2 separate regions of the Homo sapiens genome follow, and region 2 is linked to region 1. Evidence: fine-mapped expression QTL. A gene starts in region 1. The other region holds a variant in brackets. All regions are shown on one strand. Distances are from middle to middle. Region 1 holds the start of PI4K2A (phosphatidylinositol 4-kinase type 2 alpha). Region 2 overlaps UBTD1 (ubiquitin domain containing 1).

Region 1 (2,773 bases):
GCGGGTTTTTTTCTTTTAAAAATTTTTTATTTTTTGGCTGCACTGTGGGTGGTTCACACCTGTAATCCCCCAGCACTCTGGGAGACTGAGGGAGGAGGATCGCCTGAGGCCAGGAGTTCAAGACCAGCCCAGGCAACATAGAGATAACCTAACTCTAAAAAAATAATAATAATATTTTAAAAAGAAATCTTCAGGGCTTCCTAGGAAAACCTGGAGGCAATTGTTAAGACATTTTATCCTGACTGGCTACTTCACCCATTACCTTCAAGTTCCTGCGAACTTGAAGTGTAACCTGACATTGTTACATCTACATTGGAAGTATGTTAGGTCAACTGAGATACGAATTTGGGATACAAAGTACAATGTATAGCCAATCTATAACTTGTTATTTTAATGTAAATTCTTGGTAAACAAGTTAGGAACTGCCTCTTTTCCTTTAAAAACCTACTTCCAGGCCAAGCGCAGTGGCTCACACCTGTAATCCCAGCACTTTGGGAGGTCGAGGTGGGCAGATCACTTGACCTCTGTCGTTTTTTTTTTGGAGACTGATCACTCTGTCTCAAAAAAAAAAAAAAAACAAACCCAAAAAACAAACCCCCCGCCCCAAAAAAAACGTTTCATCGAGGTAGAGCAGCAGCTTTGTTTCTTTGCTTCACTGCTGTCTCCCTAGCACTTAGAACATAGTACGTGCTCAATAAATGAATGAGTGCCTGACTGAATGAATGAGGATACATAGATGAGATTCCTCCAATCTCACAGCCGGTTCAGAGTAGGCACTCAATGAGTGACTGACAGGATAGTTGCTGTTTTGAAAGCGCCCAAGTCCAGTAAGCCAATTGGAAGCTAAGCGTGGCGCTGGTATAGTAGGGGCAGGGGGCGTGCCTGACCCAAGGTTGGGTCCTGGAGCATGCGCAGTCTTCACAGAAGGTGACGGGGAGAAAAATGCGGAGGCAGCGATTGCGTAGGAGCAGGTTCTGATTGGCTACTGTTCGCGCGCGAGGGGCCGTGCCTATTCGTAGCCAAGTAAACAGGGCAGGTTAGAGGCGGGGCCAAGGAGGCGTCGCGACCTGGTTGGCCGGCCGGGGCCTGGGGGATGTCACGGATTGGTCGCGGCCGCGAGCGCAGTGGTGTGGAGCGCGCCGGGTCCCGGAGCCGGCTGTCTGAGGGATGGACGAGACGAGCCCACTAGTGTCCCCCGAGCGGGCCCAACCCCCGGACTACACCTTCCCGTCGGGCTCGGGCGCTCACTTTCCGCAGGTGCCCGGGGGCGCGGTCCGAGTGGCGGCGGCGGCCGGCTCGGGCCCCTCTCCGCCGGGCTCGCCGGGCCACGACCGCGAGCGGCAGCCACTGTTGGATCGGGCCCGGGGCGCGGCGGCCCAGGGCCAGACCCAAACCGTGGCGGCGCAGGCCCAGGCTCTGGCCGCTCAGGCCGCGGCGGCAGCCCACGCCGCTCAGGCCCACCGCGAGCGGAACGAGTTCCCGGAGGATCCTGAGTTCGAGGCGGTGGTGCGGCAGGCCGAGCTGGCCATCGAGCGCTGCATCTTTCCCGAGCGCATCTACCAGGGCTCCAGCGGAAGCTACTTCGTCAAGGACCCTCAGGGGGTGAGTGCGGGGGTGGGGACCGCCGCCGCGGGCTGAGGGCCGGCGGCGCTCCTGGGGAGTTGGGGGCTTCGCACAGCCAGAGGGAAAAGGGAGAAACTTCACAGTACCAGCCCCTGGCAGGATTTAGGGATGCCACTGAGGACTGGAGCTGGGGACGCTCTGCGGAATGGAGAAATAAATCAGAACCTACTTGGTGGGGGAGGAGTGAGCGGAAAATGAAAAGAGGAAATTGACCAGATACGGGCCGGGGGCTCAGCGGTGTGGTGGGGCAATCCGCCGCTGGACAGAGACTGCTTTCTAGTAGGGTACTTAGCTTCACACTACTGGGACAGCTATTCGGCCGCCGACTTGCAGATTTGGGGCTTTAGGCCTGTTCTCTCTTTTTGGACCGACCGAACCAGTGTGTCGCTGTTCACGGAGGAGGATGGGTGACCTATCAGGGGATCTGAGAATTCAGTTCCAGCCTTCTATGTTGTGGGGGATGTCCCCTGCCACCGTCCCAGCTCTTATTAACAGACGTTGAAGAAAGAATGGGCGGACTCACCAGTTTCATCTGCCCTGGGTATTGCTCACTTCTGGGAAAGGGTTCAAATACTTTTTGACGACTCCAAAGTTTAGATAGAACTTGGAGTTTTAGAAACATGGGGCCATCAGCTACTTTTTCTTTCATTTCTCTCCCAGGGCTATCAACAGCCTGCTTTTCAACTAAGGCAGAGCGTTTGCCGACCTTTATTTTGTCCCCTGCCTGTATATAAAGGGGGATGGTTATAGGATGGGGCATGGAGTGACCAGGGTATCTGAGAAGTGACCTTTATCCTTTTGAGAACTGCAGAATTTAAGAAATACCAAGTCTTCCCTGTTTTCAGGGAAGTTTCAGGGAAATTTTCAGGTGTGCTGCAATGGGTCATTGGAAAGATGTATTGTTATTTAAATTATGGGTGTCAAAGTTTCCTCAGATTTTCCCTGACATCTCTCCTGTGTGAACTCTTTAGATGGCCAGGGTGCTGTTTTAATAGGAGTCCTGAGTGGCCAGGACGGGCTGTTACTTGTAGCTCTTGGTTCGGCTCATTGAATGATCTAGTTATTCACTCAGAGTTTGAGTCGTCCCTGAATTAATCAAGAATTAGAGAACAATTCTGCCATGAACTCAGTTTCTCAGTTTACATAAACT
Region 2 (2,773 bases), 110 kb before region 1:
GTGATCTACCTGGCAGCACTGCTTGCAGCTCCACAAACCTGAGCCCAGAGTAGGCTCACACTGCCTCCTCTGTCTGGCGAGCCCAGCCCCCTTGCCCTTTTGCCTGGCTAACTCCAGCTTGTTCTTTGGTACTTGGAGCAAACTTTAAGACCTTCCGCAGAGGGGGTGAGACCACATTCACGTGTCCCCCTGATTCCTGTGCATATCACTCCCCTTGCATGTGTGCATTAGTTTCTAACAATCTCCTGACATGTCTGTCTCCCTCACTAGCTCTGACCTTGAGAGCCTTAGTGACTTTGTGTCCGTGTTCCCCAGCACGGGGCCTGGTGCATACTAGAAGCTCAATACATGTTTCTTGAATGAATGAATGAATGAATGAATGGATGGATGAATCGATGAATGAATGAAGAATGATGCAAGCTCTTTATTATAAGAAATGCATCCTGAGCTGTGCATGGTGGCTTACACCTTTAATCCCAGTGACTCAGGAGGCTGAGGCAGGGGGAATGCTGGAGCCCAGGAGTTTGAGGCTGCAGTGAGTTACAGTCGCGCCACTGCACTCCAGCCTGGGCTACAGAGTGAGACCCCATCTCAAAAAAATTTTTACAAAAGCATACTTTATAGTGCTCAGCACATATTTGCTCAATAAATATTTATTAGATGATTCTGTGTGAAGTAAAAACAGGATTTTTTTGAAGTGTTATATTTATTCTATATTTTCTTTATGTCCTGAGTCGATTTCTAAGGATAGAACCTAGGGAAGAGGGGGCACAGGTAAATCCGGCAAGCAGCAGGGGTTGAGAACCACTGGTCCAGCAGCTGGTTTCAGATTAAAATAAAAACAGGATCGTGGACATCATAATGGTAGAAGCTTGTACATGCCATATGATCTCAGCAATATGAATGCTAATTGAGAGGAACAAAAGAAAATGTCTCAACATATTATTGCTGGTTATTTGGGGGTGATAGGATATAGGTTACTTATGTTTTTCCTTTTTATGTTTTTATTATATAATTTTTATTTTAAAAATTTTTTAAATTTTTAAATTTTTTA[C/T]TTTTTTGAGACGGAGTCTGGCTCTGTTGCCCAGGCTGGAGTGCAGTGGCGCGATCTCGGCTCATTAAAAGCTCTGCCTCCTGGGTTCATGCCATTCTCCTGCCTCAGCCTCCGGAGTAGCTGGGACTACAGGTGCCCGCCACCACGCCCAACTAATTTTTTGTACTTTTAGTAGAGACGGGGTTTCACCTTGTTAGCCAGGATGGTCTCCATCTCCTGACCTCGTGATCCGCCCTCCTTGGCCTCCCAAAGTGCTGGGATTACAGGCATGAGCCACTGCGCCCAGCCTATTTTTTTTAAATTTAACATATGCCATCTTTTTTTTTTTTTTTGAGATGGAGTCTTGCCGTCACCCAGTCTGGAGTGCAGTGGCACAATCTCGGCTTGCTGCAACCTCCACCTCTTGGGCTCAAGTGATCCTCCTGCCTCAGCCTCCTGAGCAGCTGGGATTACAGGCGTGCACCACCACGCCTGGCTAATTTTTGTATTTTCGTAGAGGTGAGGTTTCCGCCCAGCTAATTTTTGTACTTTATGTAGAGACGAGGTTTCACCATGTTGGCCAGGCAGGTCTCAAACTCCTGACCTCAAGTGATCTGCCTGCCTCAGCCTCTCAAAGTGCTGGAATTCCAAGCGTGAGTCACCAAGCCCGGCCGACATATGTCATCTTTTAAATGTAAAAAATAAGAAAAGTGGTTGGACCAGAGACTCCTGACTGTGCTTGGGATCACTGGGTCATGGAGCCAGTCCCTGAGCTTCAGCCTTTGGTTAGTCCCCCAGGGGCGATTCTAGGTATCGGGTCCATTCCTGACCCTCTGGCCCTTTCTGAGCACCAGCATCCTGGTGCTCCGAGAAACTGTCTCGTGCCCTTGGAAACTGTGATAAACAGTTCCTAGGCCCACAACAGTCTCCCCTGTGGTTTCCAGGTCCCCAGGTGAGGGCGGAGCATGAGGAATGTGACAGGCCATGGTGTAATGGGATTTTGCTAAGAATTTACCACCAGGAGGTAGTCTCCAAATGGGTCCCAGAATAGAAAAACTGGCCTGTGGTGTGATGAGGAGTGGGACCACAGACCTGGGGGCCAAGACCAGCAGGAAGACTCAGCAACAAGGCATTGTGATCCTGGGGGCTGGGTAGTTGGCCATCCTGGCAGGCAGTTGGAGGTGGGCAGGGACAGCCAGGTGGGACACTGAGGGTTAGAAAGGTGAGAGAGTCAAGGAGTAGATAGTGGGGGGCTGACTGGGCCGGGAGAGCAGCCAGTGGAGGGAGCACCTTGGGTCAAGGCGCTCTCAGTCTGCCATCTCTTGGCCCTGGAGCAAACCAAGCAGTTGGAGTTGTCTGCAGGGAGATTTGTAAGTTCACTTGTTTGCTGTTTCATGCCATCTTCCTCCCAAAGCCTTTCCTGAGTCTCTTCCTGTATATGTTCCACAGTTAAGGCGAGCTCTTTTTCTCCTCGAAAGCTCTGTTGAGCTGGGCGCAGTGGCTCATGCCTGTAATCCCAGCACTTTGGGAGGCCGAGGCAGGCGGATCTCCCGAGGTCAGGAGTTCAAGACCAGCCTGACCAACATGGAGAAACCCCGTCTTTACTAAAAATACAAAAAAATTAGCCAGGCGAGGCTAGTGCGGTGGCTCACGCCTGTAATCCCAGCACTTTGGGAGGCCGAGGCGGGCGGATCACAAGGTCAAGAGATCGAGACCATCCTGGCCAACATGGTGAAACCC

The links. PIP is the estimated chance that this variant, and not a neighbour inherited with it, causes the effect.
Region 2: its variant is the best candidate, but not a certain one, in a credible set for the expression of PI4K2A in whole blood (TOPMed, PIP 0.89).

Annotation. Positions count from the first base shown.
Region 1 is chr10:97,639,576-97,642,348 of GRCh38, forward strand. It overlaps PI4K2A (phosphatidylinositol 4-kinase type 2 alpha), which reads left to right and starts at 1,096. Exons shown (of 9, transcript NM_018425.4): 1 at 1,096-1,602. The coding sequence starts at 1,168. RefSeq lists silencers at 1-21, 1,186-1,415.
Region 2 is chr10:97,529,845-97,532,617 of GRCh38, forward strand. The region is part of intron 1 of UBTD1 (ubiquitin domain containing 1); the gene reads left to right. Among named protein-coding and RNA genes, the nearest start is that of UBTD1, 32 kb to the left of the region's middle. The variant C/T (reference allele first, on the strand shown) is at 1,055.